Linked DNA regions of Homo sapiens: region 1 is linked to region 2. The links come from fine-mapping of genetic effects on gene expression. Tissue or cell type: whole blood. Region 2 holds a variant in brackets; the other region holds the start of a gene. Each region is shown on its reference strand, or each on the opposite one.

Region 1 (15,275 bases), not on the chromosome of region 2:
GGCCAACATGGTGAAACCCCATCTCTACTAAAAATACAAAAATTAGCTAGGCGGGGTAGTGCATGCCTGTAATCCCAGCTACTCAGGAGGCTGAGGCCGGAGAATCGCTTGAGCCCGAGAGGTGGAGACTGCAGTAAGCCAAGATCATGCCATTGCACTCCAGCCTGGGCAACACAGGGAGACTCCATCTCAAAAAAAAAAAAAAAAAAAAAAAGACATTCAACTTGAGGCTCCTGTTAGTTAAGCTATCTTCTTTCACTTGAAGCAGGTTTGAGAGGCCTAGGCCAGAATTTAAATTCCTTTTATGAATAGATTTCCCTTTCTTCCTGACCCCAAGGTCAGAGGAGACTATATATTCCATGGCTGCCTCTAAGACTAGGAATAGGAATATCTGAAAACAGCATTTCTAAGGGTGGTAACCACAGGTCGATTTTAATACGAGTCCTTTTTCTTGTAGAGGTAAGTAAAATCTTCCTGACAAGGTAGTCCTCTTTTCATGGCACAGACAATGGGCTTTCTGTTTATGAGGGGTGAGAAGTGATGTTTGTTACTATGTTCTCCAGCAAGTAAACATTCCTCTGCTCACCTCCCAACAAGACTAACAGTCTTTTTAGAAGTAAATATATTCAAGACAAACGAGAAAATCCTGGCTACCCAAGTCGAGTATATACAGGAATACAAATCGGTAACCAGCAGCTGTTCCTCAGGTTGTGACTCACTGAGCACCACTTGTCCTGGAGGCTGGATGATGGAGGACATCTGGTTATAGGTACTGTAGCAGGGATAGGTGCCACAGGAGGATAGGAACTACAGCAGATCGCTGTTTCCAGAACGGGGAGGAGTATCTCATTGTGAAACAGACTCTAGAGTGGTTCTATTTGGTCTTCAGTGTTTTAGCCTCGTTAGTTCATATTTGGCATGCAGCTTGTGGTGAGTACTGTTCTAGGACTGGCCAAAAATGGGCAAAATGTATCACTCCAAACACTACTGATTCAGCATTGTTTTCATGTCTTAAAATTGCCACCTGCACTTTGTTTCTGCACTATTATGTAGTGCATTTTAACTTAAATTTTTTCCAGCAACATGTTACTTATTTAAGATACATTACTGATATTTCATTATAATTAGTTCACCTTCCCTGTGAAACAAGAGAATTGTAAAATGTTGTGGAAAATGATACATATGTGGATGCTAATGAAATCATAGTATTTTGTGTAGCTTCTCTGAAGACCTTAGAGATCTGCAGCTTTGGTTTATAAGTGTTTGGGCCTTATCAGCCCATCTGATCCAGATCAATATTTTTTTGAAAACTGCCTGTATCCTCTGTCCTCTGTTACGGATCATCTCAGCTTTGGTGGTGGTAGTAGGGGTTTTTTGCCTGAAAAAATTCACTAAAAAGTCCCCTTGGCATGACCATCTCCTCCTGCCCACGCCTGTAGTCCCTCCCCACAACAGATGTCATCACACATGCTGCTTTTGGAATGGAGACCTTTTTTTTTTGAGATGGAGTCTCGCTCTGTTGTCCAGGCTGGAGTGCAATGGCGTGATCTCAGCTCACTGCAACCTCCGCCTCCTGGGTTCAAGCGATTCTCCTTCCTTAGCCTTCTGAGTAGCTGGGAGTACCGGCGCCTGCCACCACGCCTGGCTAATGTTTGTATTTTTAATAGAGAGGGTTTCACCACATTTGTCAGGCTAGTCTCGAACTCCTGACCTCAGGTGATCCACCCACTTCAGCCTCCCAAAGTGCTGGGATTATAGGCGTGAGCCACCACACCCAGCCAGGATTGGCACTTTTAAATCCACTTGTCTGGATATCACTTTGGGTGGTAACTGGTATAGCCATATGGCGTAGCCCAGCGATCACCCCAGTATTGCCTTTTTCAAATCACAAAAACAAAACTTGTATTAAGGCTTTGTGCTAGCATTACAGGAAGCATTTTCATTTGTCTCATTCTAATTAAATTCTCACTACTTACAAAGTGGGACAGTATTATCCCCACTTTACAGCTGAGGAAACTGAACTGCAGAGAGGTTAAATATTTTGTCCTGGTTTACATGATGATGGAAGACCTGAGATTTGGAGTCAAGTTTTCTGAATCCAGAGCCCACAGTCTATCTTTTCACTTCATTGTATCATGTTGTTTCTAGATTTTGGTTTCTCTTTCTCCTTTATCCACCACCCTCATTCCTCCCCTCACTTTGGGGAGGAGAAGGTATTTTCTACACAACTGCCAGAAATTTCAGCTGCCAAAGGACAAGGCTGCAGGGAGACAGGCCGGCAGCCATGACTTTCATGTCTAAGTTCTTGAAACCTAAATGTGTGTATCAACTGAGACAACCCAACAATTCCATCAGCATCCCTGCAGTCAGATATCTGCTAAGCTCTGATATCATCTGTCATTACTGAGAACAGAGCTCTGTCCTTCACTTAGGGTGAGACAGGACAAGGGAGGAGAGGCAGGCCAGTCCACCCAGATCCAAGGATATGCAAGAATGGAAGGGTCAAGAGCCACGGATATGTATGCAGTGGAAATGTAGGGTGTGTTGTACAAGTATGATCTGCAAAGTATTGTTAAAGCCGTCTAAGGTGCTCTCCAATCATTCATTCACTATTGATCACTTAGCAACTGCCTGCCTAGACTAGATGCTAAAGAAAGAGAAAAGTAAACCTACCCCGTGCCCTCAACAAACACAGTCTAGCAAAGGAGATACCATACCAATTGGAGATTTGGAGAGACTGTTAAAATATAGATTGCTGGGTCCCATCCCCAGAGTTTTTTATTGAGTTGTTTTGGGGTGGGGCCTGAGAATTTGGTTTCTAACAAGTTCCTAGGTTATGGTGATGCTGCTGCTCTGGGAACCACACTTTGAGATGAGAACCACTCATATCCAAACTAAGATTATGTTCTCTAATAAAGGTAAGTACAGACTGGATTGCTGAGAGAGCCCAGAGAAAGGAGAGATTAATTCTGCCTGGGAGAATTCTGGAATAACCTTGAAGGATGGATAGAATTTGAATAGGATTTTGCCTGGTTACTTGGAGAGGAAGAAAAAGACACAAGGAACAGCCCAGGGGGTATGTGAAGGGTGGGGGAGTCAGAAATTTATGCTGCAGGAAAGGTAGTAAGGAAGGAAAGGAGTGAAAGTTCATACTATTGAATAAGCCAACAATGGAGTTCAAGAAAAGTGAAGAACTTTTCAAGAAAAAGAGTTGTTTAAAGCTGTTGCTCAAAATAAGATCTATAGATCATATGGCTCCACTCCAGACCAGAATGACTATCTCTGAGGTTGGAGATACTTCTTTAATAAGCATCCCGGGGGCCAGGCGCGGTGCCTCACACCTGTAATCCCAGCACTTTGGGAGGCCTAGGCGGGTGGATCACAAGGTCAGCAGATCAAGACCATCCTGGCTAACATGGTAAAACCCTGTCTCTACTAAAAAATACAAAAAATTAGCTGGGCGTGGTGGCGGGTGCCTGTAGTCCCAGCTACTCGGGAGGCTGAGGCAGGAGAATGGCATGAACCCGGGAGGCGGAGCTTGCAGTGAGCCGAGATCTCGCCACTGCACTCCAGCCTGGGAGCGAGAGGGAGACTCCGTCTCAAAAAAAATAACAAGCATCCCGCTGGGCATGGTGGCTCACGCTTGTAATCCCAGCACTTTGGGAGGCCAAGGTGGGTGGATCACCTGAGGTCAGGAGTTCGAGACCAGCCTGGCCAACATGGTGAAACCCCATCTCTACTAAAGATACTAAATTAGCCAGGCGTGGTGGCATGCGCCTGTAGTCCCAGTTACTCGGGAGGCTGAGGCAGGAGAACTGCTTGAGCTCAGGAGGCGGAGATTGCAGTGAGCCAAGATCATGCCACTGCACTCCAGCCTGGGCAACAAAGTGAGACTCCATCTCAAAAATAAAAGACATAAGACAAAATTCAGAGGATTTAGTTACTGATTTGATTTGGAGGGTAAGGTGGCTTAGTCCTAGCTACTTGGGAAGCTGAAATGGGAGGATCGCTTGAGGCTAGGAGTTTGAAGCTACATCACACCTGTCAATAGCCACTGCATTCAAGCCCGGCAACATAGCAAGACCTCATCTCTTTAAAAAATGAAATATATAAGAAAAAGACATTTTAAAAACCATTGGAGGCCAGGCGTGGTGGCTCATGCCTGTAATCCCAGCACTTTGGGAGTTCGAGGCAAGCGGATCACTTGAGGCTGGGAGTTCGAGACCAGCCTGGCCAACATGGCGAAACTCCATCTCTACAAAAAATATAAAAATTAGCCGGGTGTGGTGGCAGGAGCCTATAGTCCCAGCTACTTAGGAGGCTGAGGCAGGAGAATCGCTTGAACCCGGGAGGTGGAGGTTGCAGTGAGCTGAGATCGCGCCACTGCACTCCAGCCTGGGTGACAAAATGAGACTCCGTCTGAAAAAAAAAAAAATTGTAATGGGGCCGGGCACGGTGCTGCGTCGCCTGTAATCCCAACACTTTGGGAGGCTCAGGTAGGAGGATCACTTAATCCCAGAAGTTTTTGAGACCAGCCTGGGCAATATAGTGAGTCCCCATCTCTACCAAAAAAAAGTTCTTTGATTTTGTTTTTGTTTTTTTCTTCAAATTACACGGGCATGGTGGCACATACCTGAAGTCCTAGCTACTCAGGAGGCTGAGGTGGGGGGATCACGAGCCCAGGAGGTTGAGGCTACAGTGAGCCATGATTGTGCTACACACCATTCAGCCTGGGTGACAGAGCGAGACCCTGTCTCAAAAAACAAAACAAAAGCCATTGCAATGGGATCCTGAGGGATACAGGGAAAATTGTATCACTGGAGAGCTTCAGGAGAGAACTGATGAAATCCTGGTTGTTCCACATCTTGCCCAAGACAAATCCTATAGGTTCAGATAAGCAAAAACTGTGAGATAGTTTATCTTTCCCTTAAACTCGGAAAGCACATAAGGTACCATGTGAAAACACTCTTCTGGTGAGTGATGGGAAATAATTCAGTTTGAGAGCCAACTAGACCTAGATTCAGACCTAGATTTGAATCCCATCTATGCCACTGATTAGGATTAACCTCAGACAAGCAATTTATCCTCTCTGAATTGCAATTTCCTCATGTCTAAATGGGAGGAGAATGCCCAAGATGCAGAGTTGTGAGGATTAAACAGGCTGCCGGCTTGTATAAAGTGCTCACATCTTGCCTGGGAGAGAATCGCTGCTCAGGATGGTGACATGGTAAACAGTATGGGTTCAGGAGTTGAACTGCTTGAGGCTGAGCCCCAGCTCCACTATTTAACCACTATAGACTTCGGGCAAATCTCTCTAAGCCAGTTTCCTCGACTCTAGAATGGAGATAATAGTATCTATTTCTTAGTGTTATGATGACCAAATCAGATGATGTGCATAAATAGATTAACCTGACCTGGCACAGGGTAAGCAGCTGCCATTCTTCTCCTCTACCTCCCTCATGCTTATTCTAGTTGGTAATGTCAGTGACACCACTAGACTTTAACTGTTGGGGGTAAATATCCTTTTTGTTTGTTTTTTTAAAACCAAATTTAGCAGTGGGGGGTTGTATACCAACTTTAGTGACCCTAACGTTGATAAGTTCTGATAACCCACTACTATCGGACCAGCCACCCTTACTGATCTTTGTCCCTCCCTCTTTAGCTAACAGTGCCCCCGACAGGCACCAATAAATGCCCTATTTTTTTCCCTGTGTCTCCCAAGAGAAAAAGTAAATTTCAGATTGTGTTCCCCCTCCTAGCGCCAGAGAAAGGAACTACAACAAAGCCTAGCTGCTGAGTCCAGAGCGCACAGCACAGTCGCCCTCCCAGCTCTTCCGTCGGCCGGGAGGAGTCTCCTTTGCTCTTGTCTACTGCTGGAGCTGCTAATAAAGTTTCATTCGAATACTTGAGCTGCCGCGCCCTGCGTTTCCCTCATGAGCTTCTTCCGCCCGCAACACGAGACTCAGCACCACACAATCAGCGTGGCAAAGCCTGAAGGGCGGGACAGGAAGTGAGGTCACTCCTCACCGGGGTGAAAGGTTAGCGGAAGTGTCCTTCTTTCCTTTTTGCTGGTAGGGCCGGGTGGTTGCTGCCGGTAAGTAGAAGCTTGGGTTGAATCTTTCAATCCGCTGCCATCCGCGGCTTGGGGGTCGAAGGTCCGGGCGGCGCCGGGTGCATTCCTTCCCTAGGTCTCTGGCGGCTACGTATCCGATCCTGTCCTGCGAGCAGGGCCCTCGGGCGGCCTTGACCAAGGCGACAGTGAACACAGTCTGAAGTTCCGGCCCAAGACCTGGGCTTGCTGGCAGGAGTCAGCTCTGGGCATCTTTGGCTTTACGGATTTTTAAGTGGCCCTTTCTCCTTGCTCTCTGCAGAAATGGGCAAGTTCATGAAACCTGGGAAGGTGGTGCTTGTCCTGGCTGGACGCTACTCCGGACGCAAAGCTGTCATCGTGAAGGTATCAGCCTCGCGGGACTCTGCGTCCTTGCATGCCGGGACCAGGCTGGCTGCGGCGGGGCGGGCAGGCTTGGAATTCAAGGCCTGTTTCTGGGGCAGTAGCCAGTGAGCACGGTCAGGGTGAACGTGGGAGAGTTTTTGAGAGAGGAAGAAGCACAGTAAAAGCAAATGTGAGCTGAATTGGGCTCCCAACGCATAAAGCCTTCTCCACCAGAGGCTTTAAATATATAGTAATAGTGGCTGACATTGCACGCTTGCTATGTGCTCCCACTGCCTTTCAGGTATTGTCATGTGCAGTCCTTGAAGTAATCATAGGGGATTCCTTTTCTTTTCTTTTCTTTTTTTTTTTTTTGAGACGGGATCTCTGTCCAGGCTAAGTGCAGTGGCGTGATCACTGCAGCCTCGACCTCCCGGGCTCAAGCGAGTCTCCCATCTCAGCCTCTCGAGTGGCTGGGACTACAGGTGCGTGCCACCATCCCCAGCTATAGGGGGTTCCTTCCTGTTGCTAAGGTTTGGAGGTGTTCTGTTATTTACCTGAAGTGCTGCAGCTGGGAATCTGTAAGAAGAGGAGGAAATTGCTTTTAGAAAGGTCACATAGCCCCTCACTGTTTTCCTCTTATCCATGATTTTGTAGCTTCTTGAGAGAGTTCCCTAGGCTCTGGCCACATACACCACTGCGTTTTGTTGTTGTGGGGACACTGGAGTACCCCTGGATTCCCCTCTCCCATCTCCTGAGACTGATCTCTGGAGTTAGGCTGTGGTGTCTTAACCTTGGCTGTACACTTCACTAGCAGTGGAGCAAGTGAATAGATACCAAGTCCTGTGAGCAGTGCTTGGCATATAGCAAGTACTTCTTAAATGTTAACTGTTGCTACTTTTAAATCTCTTACCTCTAGTAAGCCGTTCCAGATGCTTCCTGATGGAGATAAACACTGTTCTGTTTCTCTTTGGTCATTTCTCATAGCTTTCTGTGATTTTTCTCTTTATAATGGTGGATCTTGGAGACCTGAGGGTGGAAATATTTTTTGGACACTGCACTACCTCTAACACAGGGCCTAAATAGGCCCTCAGTGAATAACAAATGTAATTCTTACTCATTTAGAACATTGATGATGGCACCTCAGATCGCCCCTACAGCCATGCTCTGGTGGCTGGAATTGACCGCTACCCCCGCAAAGTGACAGCTGCCATGGGCAAGAAGAAGATCGCCAAGAGATCAAAGATAAAATCTTTTGTGAAAGTGTATAACTACAATCACCTAATGCCCACAAGGTGAGCATTTCAAGAACTAGAATTTAAATTTCTTCTCCCTGCTCTGTTGAATAATGAGACAGACCTTGCAGCCATTCCAACACCAGGAAGGGATATCATTTCCAAAATGTTCATCTTCAACTCATAAAGTGGCTATGGTTTCCAGTTTTGCCTTTGATCCATCTTTTAAGTGTTGGGTAAAGATTGTTTTCCATCCACAGTAAACACAGGCATGGGGTCTGATCTGCCCTCTTCCACTGTTCCACCCTCAAGGATAAATACAATAGGTTTCAAAAAGTCTGTGAGTGCGTGAAAGCAAGTCTTCCCCAATTAATTTTACTCACCTGTTGGGCCCTTTAGTCTGGGGACATACACTGTCTTAGTACAGTGTTTTGTTTTGTTTTGTTTTTTTTTGAGACGGAGTCGCCCAGGTTGGAGTGCAGTGGCGGGATCTCACACCATTCTTCTGCCTCAGCCTCCCGAGTAGCTGGGAGTACAGGCACCTGCCACCACACCTGGCTAATTTTTTTTTTTTTGTATTTTTAGTAGAGACGGGGTTTCACCATGTTAGCCAGGATGGTCTCGATCTCCTGACCTCGTGATCTGCCCACCTCAGCCTCCCAAAGTGCTGGGATTACAGGCGTGAGCCACCGTGCCCGGCCAGTACAAGTGTTTTTTAAGAAGTACAAGAGGCCGGGCACAATGGCTCACGCCTGTAATCCCATCACTTTGGGAGGCCAAGGCGGATGGATCACCTGAGGTCAGGAGTTTGAGACTAGCCTGACCAACATGGTGAAACCCTGTCTCTACTAAAAATACAAAATTAGCTGGGCATGGTAATCCTGTAATCCCAGCTATTTGGGAGGCTGAGGCAGAAGAATCGCTTGAACCCGGGAGGTGGAGGTTGCAGTGAGCCAAGATCACACCATTGTACTCCAGCCTGGGCAAGGAGAGCAAAGCTCCGTCTCAAAGAGGTGCAAGGCCGGGCACAGTGGCTCACGCCTACAATCCCAGCACTTTGGGAGGCCGAGGCGAGCGGATCACAGGGTCAGGAGATCGAGACCGCACTGGCTAACACGGTGAACCTGGGAGGTGGAGATTGCAGGGAGCCGAGATCACACCACTGCACCTCCAGCAAAAGAGGTGCGAGAATTGAGAAAGTCCTGAACAATAATTGCCAGAACCCAGCAGCATGCACCTTAAAGTTTGCTGCTGGTATTGCACATTTACTCTGGGTTGGCTGACCTAAAGGGGCAGAGAGAGGCCGGACACCATGGCTCACGCCTGTAATCCCAGCACTTTGGGAGGCCGAGGCAGGTGGATCGCTTGAGGTCAGGAGTTCGAGACCAACCTGGCCAACGTGATGAAATCTCATCTCTACTAAAAAAAATTAGCTGGGCATGGTGGCTGGCACATGTAATCCCAGCTATTCCGGAGGCTGAGGTGGGAGAATCGCTTGAGTTTGGGAGGTGGAGGCTACAGTGAGCTGAGATGGCACCACTGCACTCCAGCCTGGGTGACAGAGCGAGACTCCATCTCAAAAAATAAAAATAATAATAAAAGGGCAGAGAGAGCTGTTTCTTGGGTGCTGGGATGTGGTGGGGTTGAGGCAGCTAGTGTTTGGGCTGTCATGAGAGTGACTGCATTGGCAGAACTTGAACAATAAGGAAATGATTTCAAGTAGAAAGTTAGCTAACTGTCATGATGAAAGTCAAGAAGGCCTAATTTGGCCGGGCACAGTGGCTCAGGCTTGTAATCCCAGCACTTTGGGAGGCCGAGGCAAGCGGATCACGAGATCAGGAGATCGAGACCATCCTGGCTAACACAGTGAAACCCCGTCTCTACTGAAAGTACAAAAAATTAGCCAGGCATGGTGGCAGGCGCCTGTAGTAGTCCCAGCTACTCGCAAGGCTGAGGCAGGAGAAGGGCGTGAACCTAGGAGGCGGAGGTTGCAGTGAGCCGAGATTGCGCCACTGCACTCCAGCCTGGGCAACAGCGAGACTGTGTCTCAAAAAGTGGGGGAGGGCCTCATTTGATGATTCTTAGCTAGAAAAATAAAGTAGTTGTGGGAAATTGAGAATGAAACATTGAATTTTACATTTTATTGGCTTGAATCCAATAAATGTTAAAAGTGAATTTTCAGGCCGGATGCGGTGACTCACGCCTATAATCCCAGCATTTTGGGAGGCCAAGGCGGGCGGATCACGAGGTCAGGAGATCAAGACCGTCCTGGCTAACACTGTGAAACCCCGTCTCTACTAAAAAAATACAAAAAATTAGCCAGGCCTGATGGCGGGCACCTGTAGTCCCAGCTACTCGGGAGGCTGAGGCAGGAGAATGGCGTGAACCCGGGAGGCGGAACTTGCAATGAGCTGAGATCACACCACTGCAGTCCAGCCTGGACGAAAGATTCAGACTCCGTCTCAAAAAAAAAAAAGTGTGAATTTTCAGATAATGTCATCGGGACATGGCTTTTGATGGTTGCTTCTAAGGAGTCAGACCCTGATTCCCTAGTGTCCCACAAGGATTTGGGCTGTATAGGGGCCCCGGCAGTATGTGGGCTAATCCTGCCTCTCCACCTTTGTCCCCAGGTACTCTGTGGATATCCCCTTGGACAAAACTGTCGTCAATAAGGATGTCTTCAGAGATCCTGCTCTTAAACGCAAGGCCCGACGGGAGGCCAAGGTCAAGTTTGAAGAGAGGTAAGTAGGCTTTGGTAGTGAATGGTGGAGTATGGTTTCACTATTTCCATTCCTTTCCTCATTGGTGTCCTCTTTTTTTCCCTTCTAGATACAAGACAGGCAAGAACAAGTGGTTCTTCCAGAAACTGCGGTTTTAGATGCTTTGTTTTGATCATTAAAAATTATAAAGAAAAAAAGCCTGTGTCTGCATGCTGTATGTATTACCAGACTGTGAAAAGGAGAACATTATTGAATAGGAAACACTGGGTGGGCTGGGCACGGTGGCTCACGCCTGTAATCCCAGTACTTTGGGAGGCCAAGGCGAGCGGATCACCAGGTCAAGAGATGGCCAACATGGTGAAACCTTGTCTCTCCTAAAAAATACTAAGAATTATCTGGGCCTGGTGGTGCACGCCTGTAGTCCCAGCTACTCGGGAGGTTGAGGCAGGAGAATTGCTTGAACCCGGGAGGCGGAAGTTGCAGGGAGGGCTGAGATAGCACCACTGCACTGCAGTCTGACAACAGCAAGACTCCATCTCAAAAAAAAAAAAAAAAAAAGACGCTGGGTGATGGATGAGGGGCTGGGAAAATGTTAAATCTGCCTTAATGAGATTTATGCTGCCTCTGTCCTTAGCCTGATAATCCCTGTGAAGAATTGTGTAGCCTCCCTGGCTTCTACCCATTACATGCCAGGAGAACCTCTGCCACACACACTCTGCCCCTCCTTGTGACAACCAAAGGCCCCTGAGTGGTGGGGATCAGGTATTTTTGATTGAGAACCACTAACCTGAAATTCTCAAACCTTAGCACAGATAGAGGTCACCTGGATGGTTTGTTAAACCACGGATTGCTGAAATCCTGCCCTCAGACTGATCCAGTAGGTCTGAGTTTCTAGCAGGTTTTCAGGTGACACTGGTACTGGTGTAGGTGAGATGGGGACCACCCTGGAGACCTGCTCCTGGTGGTAACGACAGATGCCTTTGGTGAATCCCTGAGCCTAGAGCAGCTGTTTAATAGGACAAGGGAGTGCTCCTCAAATGGCCTGGCTGGCAGAGACTTGAAAGAAAGTGATCAAAGGAGCTTTGGGGCATTGGGTTGTGCCACTACTGTGTAGTGCAGGAGAGACATTTGGTTCTTAGGATCTGGCATTTTATCTCTCAATGGACTGTAACTAGTCATGTTTCATGAATGAAATAGGTGCTCCATCTGAATGGTTCTGTCGCTAGAGGGAACTAAGATTCAAACAGGCCAGTTTGCCAAGTCTGCTAGGTACCACACTTGCACTTGGGAACCAGAGGGGGCGGGGTGGCGGGAAGGGGCCAAAAGTAGGATTGGTGAGTAACTGGAAAAAACTTTGGGCTAGGTTACTAGGAAACTTTTTTTTTTTTTTTTTGAGACAGAGGCTTGCTCTGTTGCCCAGGCTGGAGTGCAGTGGCACGATCTCGGCTCACTGCAAGCTCCGCCTCCCGGGTTCACGCCATTCTCCTGCCTCAGCCTCCCGAGTAGCTGGGACTACAGGCGCCTGCCACCATGCCCGGCTAATATTTTTGTATTTCTAGTAGAGACGGGGTTTCACCGTGTTAGCCAGGATGGTCTGGATCTCCTGACCTTGTGATCGTTCTACCTCAGCCTCCCAAAGTGCTGGAATACAGGCGTGAGCCACCGCGCCCAGCCACTTTTTTTTAAGATGGAGTTTTGCTCTTTCACCCACCCAGTCCGGAGCGAGGTGGCACTATCGGCTCACTGCAACTTCTGCCCCGCCCCGGGGTTCAAGCGATTCTCCTGCCTCAGCCTCCCAAGTAGCTAGGACTACAGGAGTGTGCTACCACACCCAGCTAATTTTTGTATTTTTAGAAGAGATGGGGTTTCACTATGTTGGCCAGGATGGTCTTGAACTTCTGATCTCATGATCCACCCACCTTGGCGTCCCAAAGTGCTGGGATTACAGGTGTGAGCCACTGCACCCAGCCAGGAAACTTTTTAATTGAATCTTCACACACTTAAGTATTAAGGCATCTCTATTGAGACAGACTTCTATTAAGTAGCTTGCCTACTCAGGGTCACAGAAATGGGGCTGAATTTAAAACTTTTGAGGAAAAATACAGCAAATTTTTTTCCACTCTACCTCAAGGCCCAAGTGTAAATACTGTTCCTACCAGGTTTGGATCCATGCTTTGATTCCTAGCCCTGTGACCTTGGGCAAGTTTCTAATGCTCTGTGCCTCAATTTTCTCATCTGTAAAGTGAAGAAAATAGAACCAACTTCATGGCATTGTTTTGAAGAGTTAATTCATGTAAGGCACAAGCGTGTTGGGCAGACGATAGCTCTCCTTGCTGGCCACTGTTAACAGTTTTGTGAACTTTTTTCTTTTTTTTTTTTTTGAGCCAGAGTCTCGCTCTGTCACCCAGCTGGAGTGCAGTGGCACGATCTCGGCTCACTGCAAGCTCCGCCTCCCGGGTTCAAGCGATTCCCCCGTCTCAGCCTCCCGAGTAGCTGGGACTACAGGCGCATGCCACCACGCCCGGCTAATTTTTGTATTTTTAGTAGAGACAGGGTTTCCCCATGTTGGTCAGGCTGGTCTCAAACTCCTGACCTCAAGTGATTCACCGCCTCAGCCTCCCAAAGTGCTGGGATTACAGGCGTGAGCCACTGCACCCAGCCTTTTTTTTTTTTTTTTTTTTTTTTTTAAGAGACAAGATTCACTGTGTTGCCCAGGCTGGCCTCGAACTCCTGGGCTCAAGCAGTCCTCCTGCCTCAACCTGCTGGAACTATAGGCACATGTTACCAGTGGGCCCAGCTGCTGGGATTGGCACTTTTTTTTTTTTTTTAGTCAGAATCTCACTCTGTTGCCCAGGCTGGAGTGCAGTGGTGTGATCCGGCCCGGCTAATTTTTTGTATTTTAGTAGGGACAGGGTTTCACCATGGTGGCCAGGATGGTCTCGTGATCCACCCGCCTGGACCTCCCAAAGTGCTGGGATTACAAGGCATGAGCCACTGCGCCTGGCAGTTTTGTGAACTTGAACTGTGGACTTTATCTGTCCTGATTGTGTTTCTCATTCATTCAGCAATTATTATTTTTTGAGATGGAGTTTCGCTCTTGTCACTCAGGCTGGAGTGCAACAGCGCGATCTTGGCTCAATGCAACCTCTGCCTCCCAGGTTCCAGCTATTCTCCTGCCTCGGCCTCCCAAGTAGCTGGGATTACAGGAATACACCACCACACCCGGATAATTTTTGTATTTTTTTAGTAAAGACGGGGTTTCACCACGTTGGCCAGGCTGGTGTCTAACTTGGGATCTCAGGTGATCTGCCCACCTGGGCCTCCCAAAGTGCTGGGATTACAGGTGTGAGCCACCGCACCCGGCAGTTTTGTGAACTTGAACTATGGGCGTTATCTGTCCTGACTGTGTTTCTCATTCATTCAGCAATTATTGTTTTATTTATTTTTTGAGATGGAGTTTCACTCTTGTCACCCAGGCTGGAGTGCAATGGCACCATCTCAGCTCAATGCAACCTCTGCCTCCGGGTTCCAGCTATTCTCCTGCCTCGGCCTCCCAAGTAGCTGGGATTACAGGAATGCACCTCCACGCCCGGCTAATTTTTGTATTTTTTTAGTAAAGGTGGGGTTTCACCATGTTGGCCAGGCTGGTCTCTAACTCCTGACCTCAGGTGATCTGCCCGCCTGGGCCTCCCAGAATGCTGGGATTACAGGTGTGAGCCGCCGCACCCAGCTCATTCAGCAATTATTTTATCAATGTTCAATGTGCCCAGCATTATTCTAGGCTCTAGGGAAATAATCCATTGACAAAGCAGGGTCTACCAATGGGCTTGTCGGAGATTGCTGGGAATGGTTGATGGGGGCCAGTTTGCAGTTGGGGTGAGGTGGCTTTCCTTGAGGCAGCCTGGCTGAGTGAAGTCGACTTTGCTGACCAAGAAGGCTCCTCCCAGGGGTGGGGAAGCCTCGGCAGGGGGCGGCATGTGAGCGCCAGAAGGCAGGGATTTCACGGAAATGAAAGTGGAAGCAAACAGCCTGCGAGCAGAGCCTCCTGAGGTGTATTTCGGGTCTTGCTGGGGCTGAGAGAGACCACAGCCCTTTGGGGGGTACAAACAAGAGTTCAGTTGCTGTGAATTCTGCCACTGTGCCCAGCTCTGAAGCCTCAGCTCTTGCCAAACAGACCCGAGACCCATGTCAGCCCCACTGGATGCCGTAAGTGAGGAGGAGGGAGTTGGGAAGTGGGGAAACAGGAGTAATCCTCTTGGCTAGGAACCTGCAGATATCTCAGGGCCTGGCAGCCAAGCCTCACCCTGCCCATCTCAGACCTGCTGAAGGGCTGGGGAGAAACACAGGGCTGGGGTTGCCTCTGCAAGAGTTGGTTCCCTAACCTATTGCCTCAGACAGGAGGAGCTCATTAAATCCTGTGTGTGTACACTTCTCTGGAGAGAGAATCTGTAGTTTCCATCAGATACTCAGCGGGTTCTGTGACCCAAATAACAATTGTTCTAGGCCGGGCGTGGTGTCTCACGCCTGTCATCCTAGCACTTTGGGAGGCCTTGGCAATACAGTGAAAATCCGTCTCTACTAAAATACAAAAAATTAGCTGTGTGTGGTGGTGTGCGCCTGTAATCCCAGCTACTTGGGAGGCTGAGACAGGAGAATCACTTGAACCTGGGAGGCGGAGGTTGCAGTGAGCCGAGATTGCATCACTGCACTCCAGCCTGGGTGACACAGCGAGACTCTGTCTAAAAAAAAAAAAAAAAAAATTAAACTAAAGGAATTAGGCTGGGTGTGTTGGCTCACACCTGTAATCCCAGCCAGCACTTTGGGAGGCTGAGGCGTGTGGATCACTTGAGGTTAGGAGTTCGAGACCAGCCTGGCCAACATAGCAAAACC
Region 2 (15,275 bases):
TTGCCATCTGGCTAATAAGGATTTGAAGGCTGTGAAAGGGAAGGGGTTTTGCTGTAATCGTTTCCTAGGGCTGCTAGGAAAACCAAGTGCCACCAACTGAGTGGCTTAAAGCAACAGAAATGTATTCTCTCGCAGTTCTGGAGGCTGCAAGTCTGAGATCAAGGTGTCAGCAGAGCTGTGCTCTCTCTCCCGCCTTCTGGTTGTTGCCAGCAATGCTTGGCGTTCCTGGCCTGCGGCTGCATGACACATTTCTCTGCCTCCGGTGCTCCATGGCCACCTCCCCTCTGCACGCCTGTCTCCACATGGCCTTCTCCCTGTCCATGTGTCTCTTCTCATAAGGACACCAGTCTTACTGGATCCTAATGACCCTATCGTAATATGATCACATCTGCAAAGCACCTATTTCCAAATAAAGTTACATTTACAGGTACTAGAGGTTAGGACTTCAACCTATCTTTTTTTGGAGAAACAATTTAACCCGTAACAGAGGCATATAATCTGTCATCCCACCTAAAATAAAAATACAATCTATAATGGCCATGATGTGTAGCCACAGAGCCTCTGCTAAATACTGCCAGCAACAGGCAGGGAATCCATTCCATTTTTAGGTAGCCCCAGTCATGAGCTACCTCATTCCTTAAAATGGCCCAAAATACGCTTCTCCAGACTTTCACCTGTTGAACTGTTTTCCTTTATTGAACTACATAGAATAAATCCAATCACTCTTGACAAAATCTTTTCAAATATGTGAAGCCCTCCCAGCCAGCCTCCAAATATTTTCTTAAAGCTAAAAATTCTCCAGATCTTTATATGATTGACATGAGGGTTTTTTGTTTTGTTTTTTGTTTTGTTTTGTTTGAGACAGAGTCTCGCTCTGTTGCACAGGCTGGAGTGCAGTGGCACGATCTCAGCTCACTACAACCTCCGCCTCCCAGGCTCAAGCGATTCTTGTGCCTCAGCCACTGGAGTAGCTGGAATTACAGGTGTGAGCCAACAACACCCAGCTAATTTTTGTATTTCTAGTAGAGACAGGGTTTTGCTATGTTGGCCAGGCTGATCTCGAACTCCTAGCCTCAAGTGATCTGCCCGCCTTGGCCTCCCAAAGTGCTGTGATTACAGGTGTGAGCCACTGTGCCCAGCCATGGTTTTAAGATCTCTCAGGATTCTAGTCACTGAACTCTGGACATGGTCAATGGTCTAGGCCCATCCTAAGAAGAGGCTTCCATGACTGAAAGCCTACAATGTAGATATGATCTGATGGATGAAGAAATCAATGGGTGTATTTATTTCTAGGATTTGAGCATTACCCCACTACAGAAACCTAACCTTGTATTGAGATTTCTGTTTTGGTTTGGTTACAGTTTGGGTTTATCCGCTTGCTTGTTTTGCAGAGGGTCGCAGAGTTTAGTGGCAAAGCTGGGCTGTTGACTCAGATTACGTTTGCGTCAGTTAAAATCTCTGAGCTTTTTCATAATTCCTCTTAAATCACATCTTCCACTCATTACTTGTGCTGTTTCTTTTTGAACCTCCTGCATGTTGGTTCCTATTAAATTTCATCTTACTGCTCTTTGTACTTCAATGTAACAGCACATTCCACCTCTTGCAAATGTTGGCATGTCATTCCTGCATTAGCCATCCAACCCAGCTCTGGTAATCTGCTTCCAACAGGAAAAAACAAGGAGGAAAGAGAACCAATATCTAGAACATTTATTAAGACGCCAGCAAGCTAGACAATTGTTAATTGACATCTTTTTAATTGACATCAACACACAAACAGAAAAGTGCACAAAAAAACATACAATTCAATGAATTCTCACAAAGCAGATGCCTGTGTAGCCACCCATGTCAAGAAAGAGAACATTAGGCTGGGAATGTTTTAATAAGCATTTTTCTCTTTAAATCCTCAAGCCTACTTGGTAATTATTATTAAACCTGGTTTACAAGATGATAAAACAGATTCAGAAAGGTTAAGTGGCTTGCCTAGCTGACTGCCACAGCTGGGAGTTGTAAAGCACGGAATGGGCCCCATGTGGTGGCTCATTCCTGTAATCCCAGCACTTTGGGAGGCCAAGGCGGGTGGATCACTTGAGGTCAGGAGTTCGAGACCAGCCAGGCCAACATGGTAAAACCCCATCTTTTTTTTTTTTTTTTTTTTTTTAAGGCAGAGTCTCACTCTGTTGCCCAGGCTGGAGTGCAATGGCTTGATCTCGGCTCACTGCAAGCTCCGCCTCCTGGGTTCATGCCATTCTCCTGCCTCAGCCTCCTGAGTAGCTGGGACTACAGACGCCTACCACCACGCCTGGCTAGTTTTTTGTATTTTTAGTAGAGATGGGGTTTCACCGTGTTAGCCAGGATGGTCTCGATCTCCTGACCTTGTGATCCGCCCACCTGGGCCTCCCAAAGTGCTGGGATTACAGGTGTGAGCCACTGCGCTAGGACTGAAACCCCATCTCTACTAAAAATACAAAAATTAGCTGGGCATGGTGGCACACACCTGGTAGTCCCAGGTACTTGGGAGGCTGAGGCAGGGGAATCGCTTGAACCTGGGAGGCGGAGACTGCAGTGAGCTGAGATTGCACCACTGCACTCCAGCCTGGGCGATGGAGTAAGACCCTGTCTCAAAAAAAAATCTAATATACCCCATAAAAATATAGACCTATTATGTATCCACAAAAACAAAAAGAAAAAGAAAGAAGGAACCCAACATTTGCCTATAAGAACAGAAACTACGCTTACTACAAGTCAACAAAGAAAAAAAACCAGTGTAGTCCTATTACCCCCATGCTTAGCACTGTCTGAAATGTCCTCTCCCTCCCTCCCATCCTTACTTTTTTTCTGATCAACACCTCTTCATCCCCACTTCAGCATTCCTTCCGCTGTGAAGCTTTGGGAGACTTTCTCAGGTTGAGCTAATCAGCTCCTCTTTTGTGACCTTCTGGTACTTCCTATTCTTCTAGTTAGAGCAGCGGTCTCATGAATAGACTCCTATTTCCTGGGTTATCTCCCTCACGAAAGAGTTGTCTTGAGGGGAGGAGTATGGTTTGTTCATCTTTGTGCTTCCACTGGTTAACAAAGTACCTGGAAAAAAATAGGCATTCAATGTGTGTGCTGTGGTATTGTTGAATGCGGTAGAGGATGGCTGAGAGAATGCAGAGCCTGAGTGCAGAAGCGGGGCTGCAGGTGCTGGGGGCTGAACCAGGGCAGCAGTAGTGGGGATGGAGATGCTTAGGACAGCTGGTCCTAAATCCTGGTCATTATTAAATCGCCTTAGGAGGCTGGGGAGGACTTTAAAATGCAGATGCTCAGGCTACTTCCAGATGTACTGACTCAGTCTCTAGGGAGGGGACTCCACATCTGAATTCATTAGAAGTCCTTTAGCAGGGCCGGGTGCGGTGGCTCACACCTGTAATCCCAGCATTTTGGGAGGCTGAGCGTGTGGATCACCTGAGGTCAGGAGTTCAAGACCAGTCTGGCCAACATGGTGAAACCCCATCTCTACAAAAAATACAAAAATTAGCCAGGCATGGTGGCATGTGCCTGTAATCCCAGCTGCTCGGGAGGCTGAGGCAGGAGAATTGCTTGAACCCAGGAGGCGGAGGTTGCAGTGAGCCAACGTCACAGCTCTGCACTCCAGCTATCTCAAGAAAAAAAAAAAAGTCTTTCAGGGGATTCGGATCCTCAGACAAGTTTGGAAACCACTGACATAGGTAGTGTCCTGAGTCAAACTTGGAGGACACATGGAAGGCAGGGAAAGGGGGGAAAAGAAAGAGGAGTCTGGGTCCTAGGTTTGCCCAGCATGGATGATGATGATGGCATTGACGGAGCGAGTGCTGGAGGAGCCTTGGGGTGAAGTTGTTCTGCACGAGCTGAGTGTGCGGTGTCCGCACATATCCCGATGAAGATGGCCTTTTGGCAACTGGGAGCCAAGCCGGGGACTCAGGAGAGCAATCTGTCATTTAGGACCTTGAGAATTTGCCGTTTTGCTAGGAAAAAGGTCATCTTCCCATACTCACTCTGTCCTCTAGTTTAGCAGAAAGAGGTAAAAATTACTTTTACTTTCTAACTGATTAAGCCTGACAATCAGTAGTGATAATCCAGAAATAAGTACATTTAATTCATTTATGACAGTCCTAGAGTTTGCATAGTTACCTGTTTCTCATAAACAAATGCTTTAAAAGAAATTAAAAGAAGGATATTTTTGAGAAAATATGCACTTTAAAAATGGTCATGTTTAAACTCCAGTGGATGTTAGTAATTGACTTGAAAGTCTGTTTTTACAAATAAATCCTGGACCCATAAATGGATATTTGACCCCCTATAGCATAAAAGGGCAAAAACATGTCTGTAGAAACATCTGACCTAATCAATTTTCAAATTAATCTAAAATTACTATTTGAATTCAAATGTAGTAAATGTCATGGGTCCTTTCCCTGGGGCACAGACATAAACCTGATCTCCTAAATGACATAAAATAGAGAACGGAGCAATTTCTTTGGTGAATATGAATAAGCATTGGAGCCCATCTGGATAATTTACATAAAAATTGGATTTTCGCCCTTGAATTATCTTTTTATAGTGGACATCTCTCATATTGTCTCCTCAGCCTCCTGTTCCCCTTGTCTTCCCCTGTGAGACTCCTGCAGAAACTGCCCTTTTTTTAATTTGTTTATTTTTGAGACAGAGCCTCGCTCAGTCGCCCAGGCTGGAGTGCAGTGACGCCATCTCGGCTCACTGCAACCTCCACCTCCTGGGTTCAAGTGATTCTCCTGCCTCAGCCTCCCGAGTAGCTGGGATTACAGGTATGCACCACCATGCCTGGCTACTTTTTGTATTTTTGGTAGAGACAGGGTTTCACCATGTTGTCCAGGCTGGTCTCAAATTCCTGACCTCAAGTGATCCGCCCGCCTCATCCTCCCAAAGTACTGGGATTACAGGCGTGAGCCACTGTGCCTGGTCAGAAACTGGCCTGTTTTTATGGTGCTCCCTTCCTCTGGTGGAAGTTCACTGGTCCAAGATCAAGCTCGCCTATCCCCATGGGCCACCAGCTCTCTCCCCAAGGGCATCTGCCTTTGGGATCCAGCCTTGAAGGCAATCCTTTTCTAGAACTAAGAACTCCCAGGATAAAACTTGGGAACTGACTACGTTACCTACCATTAAAAGAAATCCTTTCAAAAGAGAATGAAGCCCAAATAAGAGAATAAGAAACATCCTGACCCACTGGCGCCCCTAGTTCTAGTAGCTTCGGAAGCCAGGCTGGAATGAGGACCTCTCACAGTCGGATGGTTCATTCTTCTTTAGGTTCTGTGATCCAAGAACTCCTTTCAGCCTACTCTAGAGCAAGATGGGTTTCCAGTCTCCTGAAACTAGGACTGCCAAGAATAATAATGTACCATTTCATACAGATTGACTCTCCAACTCAACCTCTGAGATCCTAACTTTCCTCAAAACCAAACGAAAAGGAATGAG[C/T]GGAAGAAGATGCTCTCTCTTACCGGTTGAATTGTGTCCCCTCCCTGCAAGAGATATATTAAAAGTTCTGGCCCTGGTGCAGTGGCTCACGCCTATAATCCCGGCACTTTGGGAGCCCGAGGTGGGCAGATCACTTGAGCTCAGGAGTTCAAGACCAGCCTGGCCAACATAGCGAAACCCTGTCTCTAAGAAAAACACAAAAATTAGCTGGGCGTGGTGGCGCACGCTTGTAATCCCAGCGACTCGGGAGTCTGAGGCAGGAGAATCGCTTGAACCCTGGAGGCGGAGGTTGCAGCAAGCTGTGATCACACCACTGCACTCCAGCCTGGGTGGCAGAGCAAGACTCTGCCTCAAAAAAAAAAAAAAAAAAAAAAAAAAAAAAAAAGAAGAAGAAGAAGAGAAGAGACACAGAGACAGAGACAGGGAAACAAGAGAGAAGATGACCATGTGGTGACAGGTGCAGAGAGTGGAGTGATACAGCTGCAAGCCGAAAAACATCAAGGATTGCTGGAAAACACCAGAAACTAGAAGAGGCAAGGAAAGGTTTTTCCCTACAGGTTTCAGAGAGAACATGGGTAAAACCTTGACTTCAGTCTTCTGGCCTCCAGAGCTCTGAGACAATGTGTTTGTGTTATTTTAAGCCACCCAGTTTGGCATACATTATTTGGTAGCCCTGGCAAACTAGTAGTTTCTAAGATACTTTCTATCCCTACATTGTCCTGCTTTGGTGCTTTTATATGGTTGAGAAGGGGCCAAAGGTACCAAGTTCTTTTCCTTGTGAAGTTCAGATGGATGCCCTGATAAATGGGGCAAGAGGGATGAGGGAGGGGATTACAGACTGTGGGATTATAGACTTTTAGCCTAAGGCTTTGTATCCAACAGTTGTCAAATTGAGGTTACACACTGAGACTTGGTTAGGGGGGCACTTCAGACATACAGCAGACCCTCAAAAAAGGTTGCTTTTCTTTATATCTTATATTAATACAAAGAAGAGCTGAAAAAATACCTTCAAAAGCTGTTTGCTGTGAGCTCAACTGCTGACTCCACCCCCCAGCCCAGTTCCATGCTGCTCCTGTCCACTCCTTCTTTTTTTTTTTTTTTTTTTTTTGGATTTTTGCCAAAGTTCCAGGCCAAAGTTTGTAAAAGTCCCCTCTTCAAGGAACATTTATTTAGAATGTCTTGCTACACGGGAAAACACAAATCTCTCTTGGTTTGTACCATGCGGTCTTAACCAGAGCAAAATCTAGTTGGTAAACAAACCAAAAAAAAAACCCACTTTGGCCTCCACAGCTGCCACCCCTTACCTCCATCTCTCACACATTTTCTAGTATGTAAAGAACTTGTGACTGTGAGGACGAGTAGATTTTCACACAGATAGAAACTGAGAGTACAGCCATTCATCACTCTGTGGACAAATCTTCAAATCCATGCCTTTTCACTCACTGGAATATAAGAAGTTAACTGTATTTTCACAGGATAAATCTGGATGTTTCAGTAAATCTTAAGTTGTTCATGCTAACCACGAGTGTGTCTGTCAGTAATACATGAAATCTCCAAAAGATTTAGGAGCGACATTGATGAAGGTGTTTATTTTTATTTATTTTTTTTATTTATATATTTTATTTATTATTATTTTGAGTTAAATTAAATTAAATTTTCATAGAGTCTTGCTGTGTTGCCCAGGCTGGTCCTGTTGTTTCTTTTTCCCTTCCTTCCTTCCTTTTTCTTTCTCTCTCTCTCTTTCTTTCTTTCTTTCTTTCTTCTCTCTCTCTTTCTTTCTTTCTCTCTTTCTCTCTTTCTTTCTTTGTGTTTCTCTCTTTCTTTCTCTTTCTTTCTTTCTTCTTAAGACAGAGTCTCACTCTGTTGCCCAGGCTGGAGTGCAGGCTGGAGGGCTCACTGCAGCCTCTACCTCTGCAGGATCAGGCAATCCTCCTGCCTCAGCCTCCCAAATAGCTGGGGATATGTAGATTTGGAGTGGGTATCCACTTCAGGTAGGAGGAAGAACAATATTAGCAAAGGCAGAGGCAAGAAAGCACCCTGCATTTTGGAGACAATAGAATCAAGCTTTTCTGAGTGGAAGGGATTTTAACACATTGGTTAGTCCAGTGATTTTTCACATCATGTTAAATTGCATAACTCTAAAAGATGATTTAGAGACAATATATAAAGCAGACAAAAGTGGAGCTGATCTGAGTAGATCAGGGTGGATCTAGTGGGACCCAGCCATGATGGTATGAGAGACCCATGTGTAACCTTCATAAGAGAAATGTAAACTGAAATCAAGATAAGGTTTGGTTAACAAATATAGATAGGAGGAGAATTGAATAAATAGAGACATTCATGTCCCTGGGTGGAGAAGTGTCCATTGTTATCTAATTAATGTATACCTTTACTGCTATTCCAACTCAAATCCCCATGGAAGTTTTGTAGAACTTAATATTTTTTTCAGAAAGAAGACTCTAGAATTAGGAGAATTACTCTAACATTTAACAGTATATTGTAAAACTGTAATAATTTGCATTCTGTATACTTTATCATATAATACTATAATACTTTCTAATACTATGCTATTAGATTTCATAATAAAGAACAGTGTGATAATGGTATACAAGGCTTATCCAAAGATAAGCCTTATTATACAATAAAATTAAATACATGAGAAAAAGCCATTATAAAAGTCAAAGGGAAAGAAAGAAAAATGCAGTTTTCTTTGGGAATAATATATAGGTCATCTGGAATAAAAATCCTATTGTTATTCACTACAAACCTATACCAAAATAAGTTCCAGATGATTTAAGGTTTTAATATATTTTAAAATATAAAAAAGAATAAAATAAATTAAATAGGTGGTAAACATCTAGATAGAAAAATGACATTCTATACTAAGAAACACTTGAAATCAAAAGATGAACAGATTTTAATAGATACAATGTTAAATTGCCCTAAGTAAAAAATAAAAATAAAATCAATAACCAAAAATAAGGCACCAATAGGCTGAAAAGTGCAAAAATAAATATTATACAAACTTAATAGCCTTTTTATATGATTTCATAAAGTAAGAAACATCACCAAGACCTTCCCCACAAAATGAGTAGACAACCCGCCAAATAAAATTTGTGAACACATATATGGAAAGATAATTAAACGTATTTGCAGGCAAAGAAATATAGACTTTGGCCGGATGCAGTGGCTCACGTCTGTAATCCCAACACTCTGGGAGGATGAGCTGGGTGGATTGCTTCAGCCCAGGAGTTTGAGAATAGCCTGGCAACACGGTGAAACCCTGTCTCTACCAAAAATACAAAAAAACTATCCAGGTGTGGTGGCGCACACCTGTAGTCCCAGCTACTTGGGAGGCTGAGGCAGGAGGATCACTTGAGCCTGGGGGGCTGAGGCTGCAGTGAGCCAAGATGGCACCTGCACTCCAGCCTGGGCAATAGAATGAGACCTTGTCTCAAAAAAATAAAATAAAAATAAAAATAAAGTAAAAGGAAATATATAGGCTTTGATTCTTTTTGTCATTCTGGCCAATTAACCTTTTCTAAAGAAATTATTATGAAATTCCAACTAGCCTAAAAATAATTTTTTTTTTTTTTTTAATTTTCTTGAGACAATCTCACTCTTGCCCAGGCTGGAGTGCAGTGGTGCGATCTTGGCTCAATGCAACCTCCACCTCCTGGGTTCATGATGCAATTCTCCTGCCTCAGCCTCCTGAGTAGCTGGGATTACAGGCATGCGCCACCACGCCAGGCTAATTTTTGTATTTTTAGTAGAGACGGGGTTTCACCATGTTGTCCAGGCTGGTCTCGAACTCCTGACCTCAGGCGATCCAGCTGCCTCCCCATCCCAAAGTGCCAGGATTACAGGTGTGAGCCACTGTGCCCCGCCTAAAATAGTATTTTTAAGTGTCTATCCTTAAAATAAAATAATTCAAAAACATGAGAAAACTCGATGTACAAATCCATTCAGGGCACTATTATTTACAACAGCAAAAAGCTAATATGCAAACAAATGAATAAATTAAGCCACAATGGAAGATTGGTTAAGTAAAATGGAATATAATAACTTGATAGCAGATTATGCATCCATTTAAAGTTTTTAATGCAAAAACTGTGCAAAATGATTTTATGTTGAGTAGAGGCAACAGCAAACCTGTGTTACTCCTACTGTATCCCCAGTGCTTAGCACAGCGCCTGGTCCCCAATAGGGAACCAATATGACTTGTTAAGTGAATGAAAACTGCACACACAAGGTATGACTCCAGACCATGTAAAACCTACTTACAGAGAAAAGAATGAGAAGAAATATAAATAATGGTAGAAGTGTAGAAGAAGTTATACTCCTACTTTACATTTCTTTTCATTTTTTGGAGAAAAAAAAAAGAGGCAATGCCCAAAATATTATATGGGGCCATACTTACAATTGTTTATCAAACTTTAACTAGGTGTCCTGTATTGTTATTTGCTAAGTCTAGAAAACCTACTAGACAACAGATTTCAAATCCTTATGGTTAATGTTTGCTTGTTTTATATAGATATATATTTTTGAGACAGGATCTGGCTATATGACCCAGGCTAGATGGCAGTGGCACAAACACAGCTCACTGCAGCCTCACCTCCTGGGCTCAAGTAATCCTTCTGCCTCAGCCTCCCAAGTAGCTGGGACTGCAGATGTGTGCCACCACGCCTGGCTAATTTTGAAATTTTTTGTAGAGGTAGGGGGTAGCACTTTGTTGCCCAGGCCGGTCTTGAACTCCTGGGCTCAAGTGATCTTCTCGCCTTAGCCTCCCAAAATGCTGGGATTACAGGCGTCAGCCACTGCGCCCAGCCCCTTACAGTTAATTTTTGAAGTCTATTGAACAAATCAGTTCCCTTGATGCATGATTATTTTTTTCTTCCTCATATATAATCATGTGTATTTTTTCTGTATAGAAAAAGTATAAACAAAGAGAAAAAACTGCACTAAATCCCACTACCAAAGATAACTACCATTTGTATTTGAAGACATTCCCTACGTATATGCATATAAGATTTATATATGTAGTTTTACATGCATATGAAATCATACCATAAATGCTTTCTTGTAATCGTGTTTTTTGCTGTTTATGTTTTCCATGACTGCCAATTTCACTGCCTGTTCAGAGGTCTGACTTCCATAAAAATCCCATTTACTTACCATTCCCGGGGGCCAGCAGTACATGGGCCACATATGCAGATGATTAACTGGTAGTTTGTTTGTTGTTTTTATGGCAAATCACATAGCACAGGCTTACAGAGGGTCCTCCCTTGAGAGCACAAGCCCAGAACCTGTTATCTAAGCCCTCCACAGTCTTGAAAAAGAGACACAATTTTGTGAGGGATATGTTCATGTGAATTGGTACTTACTAGGCTTTATTTCATCTCATACCAATTTTGTTCCAGAAACTTCCTAGAAAGCTATGAAAACATGAGACAATGACCATGGATATGGTATCTGGGAGAAGTACTGATTACGTAATGCAGTCTTTATTTTTTATTTTTTATTTTTTTTTGAGGCAGAGTGTCACTCTTGTCACCCAGGCTGGAGTGCAGTGGTGCAATCTTGGCTCACTGCAAGCTCCACCTCTCAGGTTCAAGCAATTCTCCTGCCTCAGTCTCCTGAGTAGCTGGGATTACAGGCGTGCGCCACCACGCCCAGGTAATTTTTGTATTTTTTGTAGAGACGGGGTTTCACCGCGTTGGTTAGGCTGGTCTCAAATTCCTGAGCTCAAGTGATCCACCCACCTCAGCCTCCCAAAGTGCTGGGAATTATAGGCATGAGCCACCACACCTGGCCCATGCAATGCAATCTTAGCAGCTGAGTTCAACATTTATTGAGCAGCTACTATCAGCCAGACACAGGGTTAAGCACACAAAGCATAGGAAGACCAAGAAAATGTACCCCAGCCAGGGGAAGCTTCAATTTACCAAACATAATATGAAGTAGACATTCATCTATGATTCTACCACTCAGAAATACTATTATTAACATCGATCCAGATATAAGAATTATAATACCCAGCACTTACAGAGTTTTTCTTCTTTCTTTCTTTTTTTTTTAATAGAGACAGCCTCTCACTAGGTTGTCCAGGTTGGTCTCAAAGTCCTGGGCTCAAATAATCCTCCCACCTCGGCCTCTCAAAGTGCTGGGATTACAAGAGTGAGCCACCACACCCAGCCTGCAGCTCTTATTTTATAGAGACTTTAAGAGTTTAAATAGTCACTTATGAAATCCTCAAAATATTATTGCAATGTACAATTTGTATTTCTATTGCACAGATGAAGAAACTGAGGCAAAGAAAGATTATTTAACCTGCCTTAAATTGCATAGTTGCAATGTGGTAGGGCCTCGATTCAAAACCAATGTCTCTCCATAGATGAGACAGAGAGAGAGAGAGAGAGAGAGAAGAGGAGAGAGATGACATTGCTTTGGAAACCAGACTTTGAAACAAATAGCATACAACACTATGTGTCAATCACTATCCTGAGTATTTTAAATATTATGATTTATTTTATCCATAAAGTTAGCAGGTACTGCTTATTTCATCCAGACAACTTAGTGACCACAAGTGACTTTAAGAACTTTAACAAGAGCTAGACTGCCACGACAACCGGGGTTGCCCTGCATTTCATCAGAGCTTCTCTACATTAGGGGGTTCTGCCTCACCTGAAAATCAAGATCCCTTAAATGAAACTTTTCAAGTCTGCTTTCCCAGCCTTGAATGTCATGGTCACACCTGAAGTCGTTTATCTCTGGACCCATCTCCTGGAAGGTTTAGGCATGATTGATAAATGCCTATGCACAGGTGAGCAACAGCCCCAGATTGTTAGCTGTATAATTGCATCCATACACCTGAAAAACGTGAGCAATTTCGCTCCGAGCTCTGAGGTGGTTTCGTATGAGCAGATTTTCAAGTGATGCCTGGGAAACTTTGAGAACACAATTGTCAGCCCCGGGAGAACTGAGCACCACCCAAAGGGAGGTAGTCCCGGGAAGGGGCGCTGTGCAGACCTCCAGGACCCAGCGGTATCAGCTGCCTTGAGCGGGTGAAGCTCCATGGTGAGTGTGCCAGAGCACAGCTTTAATTTCCTCTCATCCGTCCCTTTCTCTTGGGCAAAATGAACCATAAAGTTTATATTCACTTTAGTGTATACATTTTAAATATACCCTATAAACCACAGGAGTAATGAATTCAAGATGCCCACATCATAGTAATTCTGCATGCAAGCTGTGTTTTATGATTTGTATCCAGCCTTTTTAGGATTTTTCAATAGGACCAGACTCCAGACTGCAGGGAAATGAAAAGAAGGATAATGATGTGAAGTTTCACGTCACCGCTAAGTTTCCAGCACTGTTGTCCTGTAGTCACCAAGCGGGTGCATTTTTTGTGTGCGGTGAAGTGAGTGGATTGTCCCAGGCTGAGAGATGCCCAGGTAGGAGGGACACTTGGCCTTCCTGTGCTCCTTCCATTGGCTCTAGGTGTCCCCTGTGGGTTGCGATTGGTCATGTGAGCAAGCGAGCACGTGGGCTTGTGTACATTTCTGCATTTCTGGGATAGCCCTGCCTTGCAGGTGCCAGAGAAACACGTGCTTCAGAAGGGTCAGATTGGTCATGCATCTGTGCTCAGATTGAAGGAGTGGCCTCCCTGAAGAATTCCAGCTTGCAGAGGCACTTTCAAAATGCAGTGAGCTCAGGTTCCAGGAGCTGTTACGGCAGTTTTTGTCTCGACACTCCGTTCCCCTGAATTCCACTTTGGGAAGAAGGGAAGAAGCCACCATGGGCCAGGCAGGCGACAGAGCAAGCCCTAGCCAGATCGCAAGCCATCAGAGCCCTGTTCCTTCTCTCCAAAGTGGGCTTCATTTACCCCTCTTCAAGCAGCAGGACAGTCTGTTCAATGCAGGGGAGGCTTTAAGACATGGGGGCAGGGAGGGGTCATATTTTTGGCCTCGCTCCTGCTCTGCGGGCTTTCTCATGAATGCAGACCAGTGTGCACGAATGTGGCCAGGACACATGCTTTTCGCTCAGAATGCTCACTTGAAATGTAAGGATCTCTTGTTCCCTGTAACTTTAGATGAGGTTTCAAAACACAGAATCCATGCTGGAACCGCCAGGCCAGCAGCGGGAGGTGGGCTGTCTTCAGAGCAGATGGAACAAAGGATTGGGTTCCCAAGTTCTTATGGTAAGACAAAAGGGCAAGATGTCAACCCAGGACCACCCAAGGAAAATTAAATACAGATCGACTTTTGATGGTTTATGTTAACAGAGGGGAGATGGGGTTTTGATCTTGAGAAAAACAAACATCACAAACTCTACCGTAATCACTGTTTCTCACACCCTACAATAGAGTAGCAAGAACTGCTAGGTAGCCACAAACACACAAGTGGGGTGGGAGCTTCTGTTTCTTCTGCTGTTTAGTGTGCCTTCCATGGGCTAGCGAGCGCGGGGCAACATCAAGAAAAGGCACCCCAGGTTTCCCAGCCAGCCACTGATATAAGAGAAAAAAATGGGTCCTCCAGCAGTCAACTCCCCTTTCTCAACTCCAGATCTGGGATCAGAGGCCCTCCTGGCTCAGTCCTGGATCAGGGGCAGCCCACCCACCGACACCTCTCTCTCAGCCACAGCAGCGTCCATCACATCGGAGCTCCTACGCAGCCTGGGATTACAGGTGGAATGAACATCGCTAACTCTATTCTCAACCCAAATCTTTTTCTAGCTTTTTAAAAAAATGCATTATGAGGCTGGCACAGTGGCCCACGCCTGTGATCCCAGCACTTTGGGAGGCCGAGGCGGATGGATCACCTGAGGTCAGGACCAGCCTGGCTAATATGGTGAAACCCCATCTCTACTAAAAATACAACAAAATTAGCTGGGCTCAGGGGTGGGCGCCTGTAATCTCAGCTACTCAGGGGGCTGAGACAGGAGAATCACTTGAACCTGGGAGACGGAGGTTGCAGTGAGCCGAGATCAAGCCATTACACTCCAGCCTGGGTGACAGAGCAAGACTCTGTCTCAAAAAAAAAGAAATGCGCTAATGAAAAATTTCAAGCATCCTCAGAAGCAGAGGACATTCTACAATGAACCCGAGATTCAGCAGTTACCAAGATTTGCCACACTTCTTCATCTATCCCAATTTTCCCCTTTCTTTACAGCAAATTCCAGATATCATGTCATTTTAGCCCCTCATCCTTCGGGACGCATCTCTAAAAATATAGACATTTTCTTAATTTCAATGTCATTGTCACTCCTAAAAAATTAACAGTAATTCCTTGATATTATCTAGATCACAGTCCATATCAGATTTCCTGTATTTCATAAAATTGTCTCGATTAGTTGGTTAAGTTTCCTTAGTAGCCAAGAAAGATCTGCACATTTCATGTAGTTGTGATGCCTCCAGGTTCATCTTTCCTGCCCCACTCCTTGAATCAGCCATTTCTCTAAGAGTCCTTGGTTCCTTTTATTGGAAAATGGTGTTAGAAACTGAGCCACTGTGTCTGGCTCTTTCATTTTTATAATCCCAGCACTTTGGGAGGCTGAGGCAGACGGATCACCTGAGGTCAGGGGTTCGAGACCAGCCTGGCCAAAATGGCAAAACCTCGTCTCTAGTAAAAACACAAAAAATTAGACAGACATGGTGGTAGGCGCCTGTACTTGGAAGCCTGAGATGGGAGAATTGCTTGAACCTGGGAGGCAGAGGTTGCATTGAGCCGAGATCGTGCCATTGCTCTCCAACCTGGGCAACAGAGAGAGACTCTGTCTTAAGAAAAAAAGAAAAGAAAAGAAAAGAAAGAAAC

The links.
Region 1: RPL27 starts here. The variant in region 2 is fine-mapped to the expression of RPL27 in whole blood (TOPMed, PIP above 0.99).

What each region holds. Positions count from the first base shown.
Region 1 is chr17:42,992,378-43,007,652 of GRCh38, forward strand. It overlaps RPL27 (ribosomal protein L27), which reads left to right and starts at 6,042. Exons shown (of 5, transcript NM_000988.5): 1 at 6,042-6,094; 2 at 6,372-6,454; 3 at 7,556-7,725; 4 at 10,296-10,406; 5 at 10,495-10,582. The coding sequence starts at 6,374. The coding sequence ends at 10,543. It overlaps LOC124904006 (a long non-coding RNA gene), which reads right to left and starts at 7,556. Exons shown (of 2, transcript XR_007065759.1): 1 at 7,344-7,556; 2 at 408-7,009. RUNDC1 (RUN domain containing 1) reads left to right here. Exons shown (of 5, transcript NM_173079.5): 5 at 1-2,765. IFI35 (interferon induced protein 35) reads left to right here and starts at 14,407. Exons shown (of 7, transcript NM_001330230.2): 1 at 14,407-14,591. The coding sequence starts at 14,571. RefSeq lists enhancers at 5,599-6,798, 5,764-6,073, 6,084-6,323, 6,394-6,503, 14,267-14,576.
Region 2 is chr6:151,148,061-151,163,335 of GRCh38, forward strand. LOC124901432 (a long non-coding RNA gene) reads right to left here and starts at 2,910. Exons shown (of 4, transcript XR_007059813.1): 1 at 2,829-2,910. The variant C/T (reference allele first, on the strand shown) is at 5,467.